2 separate regions of the Homo sapiens genome follow, and region 2 is linked to region 1. The links come from fine-mapping of genetic effects on gene expression. A gene starts in region 1. The other region holds a variant in brackets. All regions are shown on one strand. Distances are from middle to middle. Region 1 holds the start of PBXIP1 (PBX homeobox interacting protein 1). Region 2 overlaps KCNN3 (potassium calcium-activated channel subfamily N member 3).

The links. PIP is the estimated chance that this variant, and not a neighbour inherited with it, causes the effect.
Region 2: its variant is fine-mapped to the expression of PBXIP1 in thyroid (GTEx, PIP above 0.99).

The regions. Positions count from the first base shown.
Region 1 is chr1:154,952,883-154,958,254 of GRCh38, forward strand. PBXIP1 (PBX homeobox interacting protein 1) reads right to left here and starts at 3,217. Exons shown (of 11, transcript NM_020524.4): 1 at 3,187-3,217; 2 at 789-875. The coding sequence starts at 839. PYGO2 (pygopus family PHD finger 2) reads right to left here. Exons shown (of 3, transcript NM_138300.4): 3 at 4,144-5,372.
Region 2 is chr1:154,719,738-154,725,109 of GRCh38, forward strand. The region is part of intron 5 of KCNN3 (potassium calcium-activated channel subfamily N member 3); the gene reads right to left. Among named protein-coding and RNA genes, the nearest start is that of ADAR, 110 kb to the left of the region's middle. The variant G/A (reference allele first, on the strand shown) is at 2,134.

The sequences.
Region 1 (5,372 bases):
TGGGTTCCTCAAGGGCACCTCAAACTCAACATGTTGAAACTGAGCTTCTCTCCTCCTCCCCTCCTGGTGGCTCTAATATACAAAGTCGCTACGTCTTGGAACTCTCAGAGATGCCTTTGACAAATTTTTGCCATCCCTTCTCTAGCCACTCAGTTCCCCATCCTGCCAACCCCCTTCTCCCTCCTCAGTGGGCTTCTGCCCCACCAGCTGCTACCTGGACTGCTGCAGGGGGTCTTTGAAACACTCTCTCCCTGTTCCCACCCAGCATGCACAGTGGCTTCACCCTCTGCCTGAGACAATGATTGTCCTGATCCCTCTAACCCAAAGCCCCACACTGATTTCCCATCAGGATGAGGCCTGAAGGCCTCAGCCAGGCTCTTCCGGTCTCTTCCAGGGGTTCCCAGGCTCTGTCCCCAACCTCACTCCAACACTGGCTCCAACCCACGTCTCCACATCACCCATGGGTGTCCCACAGTCTCCCCCAGCATGGCGTTCCCCACTATCGCCTCAGGACCTTTGTTCACATTGGTCTCTCCATTCGAAATCCATCCCTACTTGTCTCAGCTTACCCAACTGGTCCCTTCCTTCATGGCATGGTCCAAGTGCCAACACCTGACCCCTGGGGCCTGATCTACTTCTTCCTGCTACTGGAATTCCTCTAACAGCCAGCAGGAAGTGATGTAGGTGACCATCAGGACTAAGGAAAAGGACCCACCAAGAAAGAAGCCCAGCACTGCAGAAACACCCCCCAACCCCACCCCCATGGTTCCCAGGCCCGCTCTTCCTACCTCGGAGCCAGCAAGCACCCAGCTATTATCAGAGTCTGGGCAGGAGGCCATAGTTGCTGAGGTCCCTGAGGCTGCTGTGGCTGCCACCTGCAGAAGAAAGCTCTCTTAAGGATGGGAGCTCCCTTCAGGAGGGGCAGAATGCAGAAAGCAGCCTTGGCTGGGTTCCAAGGTTCAAGTGCTGGGCAGCAGCCTCCAGAACCAAGCCTGGTTCCAGTCCTTCTCTCCCTGACACCCCAGCTCTTCTAAGCAGTATTTGCCTTGCAAATCAGAATCTGCCAACACCCACAGAGAAGCCAGCCTCTTCCAGGGACCAACAGGGCCTTGGAAAACTGAACTGACCTTGAAAGGTCAAAGTAGCATAGGCTGGAAAGGCTCTGGGGAATTCCAGTCCAGCCCCCTGACATTTGAGTCAGGGAAGATGAAGCCCAGCAAGGTTGACAGACTCAACTTGCCAATAAGAAGACTTGTTAATAAGAAGAGCAGGGAAACAACACAGCCCTCCCTTCACAACACCAGGTACCTACACAATCACTACCTTCTCCCCCAGGACCTGGAAGGGAAGACTCAATGGCCTCCTTCAGCCCTAAGTGTCCCACCACTTGCCCAGCATAAGTCCTTGGTATGGTCTAGTTCAGTGGTTCTCAATCTTGGCTGCACATTGGAATCACCTAAGATTTTGATTCAATTGAGTTGGGGGGTAGGCCCGGCTGTGGGTCTTTTAAAAAACCACTCAAATGATTCTCATGCGCAGCCAGGGTTAAGAGCCACTGGCATAGCTTAGATCCACCTGGATGCACCTTTTATAAGTCTCCTCATCACTCTCAGTCTTCATCCTAAATTCTGTTTACCTTCTTAGTAATCGCCAGAGTTTGGTCTTAGGGAACTTGAAGGTGACTGGGAAAATGGATTTATGGCAACTATCATGTATATATACATCACTTTATAGCTTGCAAAAAATAGACAAAAATCAGGGCTATGGTCCTGCACCCGGTTAATCTGCTCTGACTTGACAGGGATAGGGGAGGGAATCACTCCAGTTTCCAAAGCCTGACTGACACAAAGCAGGGTAAGAAGAGAGGGATCCGCCCCTTCATCCAAGGCTAAAACAGTTCCCTCAGGCAGCTCCTGTTGGGACCAGGCATAAAGGTGGAAGGATAGATGAGCTGACCTCTCAAGAGTACTGGATTGTGATCCCTCAGAACAGGATAAATGACTGCTTCCCGAGCACTTTATAAGAAAACTCAGGAAAAGGGAAGTGAGGCTGGGAGAGTATGGCAGTTCTACCTTTGAAACCAACCACATTATCCCCTTCTGTTTGAGCTGTTTTCAAGTCCTGCGTGGTGCCCTAAGTAACCTCCTGTGGCTCCTGCCAGTCAAGATCCAAGTCCTGGATAGGTCTTTCCCAATGCCCATCCTCCCAGACACATGCACCCATTCCACACGGAGACAGGAGAATGGCTGCAATGACCTCCCTGTACCAAATCCAACAGGACACCCTGGCATGCATCTGTAAGTATCCATAGAGCCATGGCTGTTCAGCCTTCCGCTTGTGGCTCCACCCCCGCCCTTGTTATCATCTCCCCATCCCCAGTTGCTGACTGTTAACAGGTGGTGGCAGGAAGGAAGTGGCAGCAGCTTGGGCTGAAGTCCCTGTTTATCCCTAGCTGTGTGTGCAGCCTGCTCAGGTCCTCTAGAACCAGGCACCATGGCAACCACAGTGATGTCAGACCCACTGTCTCCATGGAAACCAGCAAAGGTATTTGGGTCAACAAAACAAATACTTATGAGACCCAAATAGGAGACACTCTGAAACTCCTATACTCTGGGTTCCAAACCCTGATACCTCTTTCTTGGTTAGGTTAACCCAGGGTTCAAAAAAACACCTCTTCTCCCAAGCCAGCATCTCACTGCCTTATTAGGAAGTTCCTTCTGCTGTCTAATCTCCACCCTTCCCTGCTGTGTTTCCAGATCTTTTTCTTTTCATCGACCTTCTGGAAGAAAACCCACCTCCACTCCCTCCCTCCACCCCCTTCTTTTCATTCAGGCAGGATTCAACAAACACCTCCTGTAAGGATTATGACAGAGACTTCTGCTATTTCTAAAAAACAGCTAAAGGGGGAGCTCTCCCACTCAGCATAAAGCTAGGAAGTCTCGCCTCTAGTTAATTTAAACTCCTCTAACAGTTGCTCCTCCAAACCGCTAAAGCAAAGGATCTAGGGCCACTTGCCTGGGGTACCCAGAGCAAGTTCCTGTTGTGTTAGCGTCGGCACCTGGCCTTCCTCCCCCAGCCCAGAAATGAAAAGCAGCTCATTCCTTCTAGATTAGTTCCGCCTTCCCTTTTCCTTATTCCACCCCCTTCAAAGCGAATCTGTGGACCCCTTCCCAGCTAAGGCATTACCTGAACCAGCTCTTGCTTCGGTCTTCAGCTTAACTTGTTGCAGGCTTCCCTTTGTTTGCAGCCCGAGAAGAAAATCATGTGACCAGAAACTGACCAATGAAAAGTCAACTTCCCCAAGGGGGCGGAAACTTTTGGCCAATAAGAGCAGGAATTGAGAGCCAGGGGAGGGGAAGGGAGGTCTAGCGACACGGCCCTAAACCTGGGCTTACCTCCTGGTGGGCGACCGGGGTCCCAGCTAACCGAATCCTGAGTTTCCTGCCCTTCTTTCCCAGTGTCTAAACAGTTTCTAGAGGGAACCCCCACAAACTGAGAGAAAAGCAGACGGTGCCGTCTTCTGAGATGACGAAGACAAGGGGCCAGGTTGGCCCCAGGATAGACAGAGACAGCTGTGAGATGGGGGAAGGGAGAGGGACAGGTCGCAAATCCAGGGTGTGGAAATAGCCCTCCTGCCATTCTCCCCAATCTGCTCCAAAACAGACTGCTTAAAAGATGCCATTGCTACTTTAAAAAACGGTTGGGGGACGGGAACGATCTGAAAAACATCCCAAAATGAAATTTGCTAGGACAGAAGCAGCCCCTCCCCTCACCCTTAGAGCGACACTTGCTCCCTAACCCAAACAACTGGGAGGTGGGTGGGGTGCTAAACCCAGAAGAGCTCAAGCACTTGTCTTCCAGAGGCTGTGGTGCCAAATCCGCCTGGCTCCAGGCCTGGCCCAGGAATATGCTCAAAAAGGAAACTCAGTTTCTCACAGTGGAGACACAGGGGGATGGGCGGGGAAACACAGGCCTCCCTTGGCTCAGCAGCTTATACCAGGGTCAGCTCAGGGGCCAAATCTGCCATTCCCACTCCCAGGGACCCTGGGGAGCATACATATCCTCAACCCCTAAGCACCCTACCCAGCAGTGACAGCGGCTCATTCCAGCCTTTTCACACAGCAACAGCAAGGAGTCCTTGTCTGGGATTTTAAAATCATTTTATTAATCCAACAGTACAAAAGACCCCCACCACCACCGCATTCTGCCATCACTTTGTTCCAAAAAGTAGTGGAGTGAGAGAGCGAGAGGGAGCAGATCCAGCAAAAACACTCCCCCAGGGGCCATTTTACAAAATGCGGAGCAGGGGAAGACAACACAAAAACAGCAACAGATAAATGGGGCAAACAGAACAACAAACACAAGAGTTGAGCAGCGGGGTGGGGGTGGGGGGTTGCCATCTACGCCGTTTTAGTGTGAGGGACACTGGGAACGATGCCCAGAGGCTGCTCTCCTCCCAGCCTCAAAGGTTGTCAGCTCCACCAGAGCAGGGTCTTCTCTCCTCATGCCAGGAACTGAGAGAAGTGGGGGTAGGGGACCACTAGGTCTTTGCCACTGTATCTTGAGCTGGGGGACTCCTAACTTCTCCGAGGGCCACACCCCATGCCTGCCTTCCCCACCCCATGGAGGAATGTGTGCATGAACAGAAAAGGAGAACGAGCAGCGCTAAGGTCCTCATCAGGCCCCAGGCCCATCTCTGGCAGGCAGTGCTTAAAAAATAAAAAAAGACAAATAAAGCCCAGTGCAGGCCTTTGGCTGAGAGGAATGAGAATTGCTAATTAATCACCAGGCCCAAGAGGATATGAAAGAATAGCAAAGAGAAGCAACAAACTCCAGGCTCTTCTACCTTTGAGTACCATGGCAATGAGGATCCCGCCGCATCCCCTACCCACAGGCTGTGACAGGGCCTCACTTGGATCCTTTTATCATGGAGGAAATGAGGTATAGGGCTCTGCGCCTTTTCAAGCTTTCCTTCAATCAAGCCAGGAAGGCAGGGGAATAAGGGCGCCGAAAGTTGAAGAACACACGGAGTATAATGTGCAACAGATGGGCTGGGGGAGGAGGGTACCACCAAAGTCCAGACTTTCAGGACAGCCCAAACTTCAAATATTCTGGTCTGTCAGATAACATATCCCAATTTTTGGCAAAAATATGGTCATTAGGAGAAAAGCACGAGAGAGGCTGAGAAAGGACCAGTGACTTTGGTATGAAGAAGATACGTCCTGACAGCATCTCTCACCTACTGTCTTGAAGCCCCAAATCACCAAGAAACTGCCATAACCAGGAACTCTCCTGCTTCCTCAGGCTATTTGGTTCTCTGAGGGGGAAGGAGTTGGGTAAGTCTTGGAGGAAGCAAAGGAGTGGGTAGAAAA
Region 2 (5,372 bases), 230 kb before region 1:
CCCTCATCACCACCCTGCAGACTTGCTCTGGCTTCCCCGGCTGCCCTCTCTTTCATCACCCTGCTTGCACCTCCTCTTTTTCCTCCCCCTGTTCTATTCCACACTCCCTTTACAGGCTTCTCTGCCTGCCTCACCCAGAGGCCCTCACTGACCACTTAGAACTGGGAGCTCCACCTCTCTGGCTGGCAGGAAATTGGGTAGAGAGAGAGGAGGTGTATTTCCGTTGTTCAGAGTTGGAGCTTGAGGTTCTCCCTGTAGCAATATGGTAATGGGTGGTGGATAATTCTATAATGCTATTTATGTGATACTCAGTTAGGGTGGAGTTAAGCTGGCTTTTCTTTTCAGCAGGTCTGGGACCCTAACCCCATGCTGAGTTCCAAGGAACTGACCGCCCTAAAGCTGCCTGCCTGATGGTCTGAGAGCAAAGTGGATCTTGCATAGGCCGGGGGCCCACCCTCGCCCCTTTCTGGGCCTTCGTCTTCTCATGTGGGTTGGAGTGGCTCTTCCCTAAGGGTCCTTCCAGCTTAAACGCACATTGTTTCTGTGACTATTGCTAAAGAAAACCTGCACCCAATCTGTCTGGGACAGAACCTTGTGCGTGATGTAATTTATAATCCTCTTCTGGGGAGAATTAGCATTCCTGATAACTGCCCTATTGATTATCTGATCCATTGTAAAGACTTGAAGACTTGTTCTGGAAATCCACTGTTGAGCCCAACCAGCTGTCCATTAGCAGTCTTTAGCTAAACCTTCTATAATCTGGCATAACAATGACTACCATTGTTTTTCCTACGAAATACCACTACTAAGAGTAATCTTTGAATTAGCCTGCTGAAGAAAATTTTCTTCTAGCAAGATTATGATCAAACTTTGGCATATGCTTGTAATTAAAGAAAAGTTTTCTTCAGTGTCATTCAGGAGATAGTAGGTGGGGAAACTACTTAAAGGTTTTTGAGCAGGAAGTAATTTGTTCAGAGCTAAGCCTGAGAGTCTAAGGAGATCCATGGGGAAGCAGAGTGCAGGATGACTGGGGTAAGGGACGCCGAAGTGAGGAGAGCAGGTAGCAGGCTGCTGTGATAGTGCGAGACAGAAGATGGCGGCTTCAAGAGTGGCGGGGCCGAGGCCCTGGAGAGGCGGGCATGCGTGAACAGCCACGGCAAGGTGAAATCAGACACAGAAAGTGCTCAGACCCTCGTGGGGTCCAGGGTCCAGAGGAGTCAGAAATGGGGCTAAGTCTTTAGGCCTGGCGTCTGGAAGAACACGATGTCAGGAGCACACCAGGGAAGTTAGGAGAAGGAAATAGTTTAGGGAAGTTGTGGGTTTAATTTTGGTCTTATTCATTGAATTCATGGGGAAGTGTACTTGGGTGAGCTACTTGGGGCAAGAAACCCCTGCAGCAAGAAGGAGATAGGATCCTTAGCACACTGTGCTGTCTGAAGGTTCTGCTCACTGTGGCTTGATGTGGAGAGTAGGTACCGCAAAGAAAATATCTCCGGTCCATGGTGCCTCCCAAGCCAAGTGTGTCCATAGCAGCCCACTCTGCCTTTTTTTTCTTTTTCTTTCCTTTTTTTTTTTTTTTTGAGATGGAGTCTCACTCTGTCACCCAGGCTGGAGTGCAGTGGCACGATCTCAGCTCACTGTAACCTCCGCCTCCTGGGTTCAAGCAATTCTCCTGCCTCAGCCTCCCGAGAAGCTGGGATTACAGGCACCCACCACCATGCCCGGCTAATTTTTTGTATTTTTAGTAGAGACGGGGTTTCACCATGTTCGCCAGGCTAGTCTTGAACTCCTGACCTCAAGTGATCCGCCCACGTCGGCCTCGCAAAGTGCTGGGATTACAGGCGTGAGCCACCGCACCCGGCCCACTCTACCTCTTATAAGAAGAAGTGCTCTCTGAGGGCAGTCAGCCACCAGAGGTTAGGGATGGAGGTGAGGACCACCTCTTACCCATCTTGGTGCCCCCAGAGTACAGAGTGTGGCACCCAGGGAGTGGCCTCTGTGATGGATCTGTTTAGCTACATAAAACAGAAAGATGGGGACATGAAAACACTAAGTGGCAGAAAAGATGGGGCTCTAGTATCTTTCTTCCAGTCCCTCTGTGAATCATGTACTTAAATATTATCTAGTAGCCCA[G/A]AGATTAGCAATAAGTTATAATTACAGAATAACAATGGCAGTGACACTGCGAAGTCAGTGTGGGAAGATCTGATTGAATTAAATACAGAAATGACGTTGCCACCAGAGTTGATAAGTCATACGAGGAAAGAAGATAAGCATGGGACTCAAGAAAAGCAGAAATTGAGTTCTTACCCAGTGCTATCAGACCCTCTTCCCTCCCTACAAACAAATAAATAAAAATAGTGCTGGCTCTCATGGCAAAGGCTAGGCTGCAGTCTTTAGAGCAAGACAGGATGAATAAATACTAGAACAATTTGAGTATTTTCTATGATTAATAGCTACAATTCCTTTTTTCGTTTTGCGTAGGTCTTTGAAGCATCAAGGTTGCATATACCGGTAAGAGACTGCTTTTATCTGTCAAATCTACTAATTGCCCACTCCGAAGAGGTTGCAATTATGCCACAGTCAACTCCTTCATGTTGGATCTTTCTCTGAGAATTCACTGAGATGTTATGAATAGACTGAGCTTAGCATTTTTTTTTTTTTTTTTTTTGAGATGGAGTCTCGCTCAGTTGCCCAGGCTGGAGTGCAGTGGCACGATCTCGGCTCACTGCAACTTTCGCCTCCCAGGTTGAAGCGATTCTCCTGCCTCAGTCTCCCGAGTACCTGGGGCTACAGGCACGTGCCACTACGCCCGGCTAATTTTTTTGGATTTTTTTTTAGTAGAGACAGCGTTTCACTGTGTTAGCCAGGAAGGTCTCAATCTCCTGACCTCCTGAGCCATCTGCCTCGGCCTCCCAGAGTGCTGGCATTACAGGCATGAGCCACCGCGCCCGGCCAAGAGCTTCTAAGGATCATGTCTGAGAGTGAGTATTTCTTTTTTTTTTTTTCTTTTTTTTGACAGAGTCTTGCTCTGTTGCCCAGGCTGGAGTGCAGTGGTGGGATCTCGGCTCACTGTAAACTCTGCCTCCCAGATTCAAGCGATTCTCCTGCCTCAGCCTCCTGAGTAGCTGGGATTACAGGTGTGTGCCACCACGCCCCACTAATTTTTGTATTTTTAGTAGAGTCAGGGTTTCACCATGTTGGTCAGGCTAGTCTCGAACTCCTGACCTCATGATCCACCCACCTCGGCCTCCCAAAGTGATGGGATTACAGGCGTGAGCCACCGCACCCGGCTGCTTAGCATCTTCTTGACCAATGAGCCACTCCAGCTTGATACAATGGACCATTTCAAGAGGACAGAAGGCAGGCCAGGCATCCCCAGGGGAAGAGAGGTGGGGTTCTCTTGTGAGCAGGTCAAAGTCAGCTCAAACCAGAGCAGGCCAAGGATGCACACATCCAGTTTCATTTCAATTAAGGTTATGTAAAAGAACCTTCAGAAGTTCTAGTCCTGCCAGCTTTGAAAACCTTCTCTCTGTAAGAACCATCCCTTCTGTGTTGTTTATTTCCTTGAGAAAAGATATTAGATATTAAAGAGACATTTCAACAGATTTAAGTGTTCTCAGAAAAGTGAGATGTTATTCGATTAAAAAGCTACCTTAGATTCATGGGTGAGCAATAAATATTTGTTGATTTGATTTTCAGTCCTACTTTTCAAGAAGTGGAATTGAGGAGGATGTTAGGGAATCATTTTTGAAAGATTAAAATTAGCAACCACAGTCTCATCTTCTACAATTATATTGCAGAAAAATTGTTTATTTTCCTGGCATACAAAGGAGCTGGCTTTCCTCAGCTTTATTTTCCTCTAGCGTCTGATCTACTTGGTGAAAAATGGAGAGGACAAAGGAATAACACCAAATACAAAGAATATTCTTGGCTTAAAAAAGAAAACCAGAATAAACAGAGAGACTGCTAATGTCTCTACTCTTGGTAAACAGCTTATGAGAAGGCTTTGGAGGCAAAACATCTCCCTGCCCTCACTCCGGCACGTAGTTTCAATCCAGTGAAACCTCAGTAAATTGCTTCAGGAAAATAGATGCAAGTGGATTTGCATTTAGGTGTTTCAATAACTTGAATAATTTCCTCAATACTGAGCATGACTTTTGCACCCATTATTAGAGGGGGCTGAAAGAGAGTGGCCAAGTGGCAGGGTTCCCGGCAGGCCTTACTGTGATAACAGCCTTCAATCACTGCCATCGTGATGTGACAAATCATGGCTTTTTTTGGTGCAGCTGATAGCTCAGGGCCATGATGTATCAAGTACAAACACTTGAATGTCAACAACATAAGAATATTTGCCCGTACCAGTTCCTTTTAATGTCTGTTAAGGCTCTTTACAGAATCCAATAAATGTAATCAAAGACCAAACAATCAAACACCATAAATAATTCTGCTGAGAAACTGGAGAGGCCTTGGCCGCTGCACACTCTCCCACTGCCTTCCCCAAGAGCTCGCTCGCAGCTCCCTCTGTCATTCTCTCTCTCTCTCTTTTTGTTCTTCCTTCCTGCCGTTGTCTCTATTTCTAACACATTTTTGCTGCTGTGCAACATTAATCACTGAATATTTTCTCTAGCTTTCAAAAACCCAAATCAAAATTTGGTTGCTCATGGGTCCCTTAACCTACTTCAGTCCTAAATGAAAAAGACTATGGAGGCCGAGACACGGGCACAGGGTTTTAATTCTGTCTCGTCTCAGAAAGAGGACAGTCTTGCAGGAAATCATCTTACTGACCTTCCTTCAGGCTGTAGTTCTAAAGAATTTTCCATAAAAGCTGTCCTTGAATAAACAGCTCCTGCCTTGCCCATTTGGCCTGCTGTTATTCTGGAAGGCTTGTATCTGTCTATTCTAAATGGGTCTTTTCATCTCAGACAATTCAGTGGGGTGTCCAACTTTCAGCAGCTAAATGGTCTACCCATTCCTGCATATTTTCAGATTTTCATCTTCCATAACCACTTCCATAATGGTTCAAGTGAGAAACATTACCCGGAAAACCCAAAAGGGAAAAATTGGATGATGATGTTTTGATGAACAATTTTATTTAGGGATGTGGGCTCTACTAGAATGATTCTTTTTTTTTTTTTTTGAGATGGAGTCTTGCTCTGTCGCCCAGGCTGGAGTGCAGTGGCGCGATCTCGGTTCACTGCAACCTCCGCTTCCTGGGTTCAAGTGATTCTCCTGCCTCAGCCTCCTGAGTAGCTGGGATTACAGGTGACTGCCACCACACCCAGCTAATTTTTGTATTTTTAGTAGAGACGGGGTTTCACATGTTGGCCAGGATGGTCTCGATCTCTTGACCTCATGCTCCGCCCGCCTCGGCC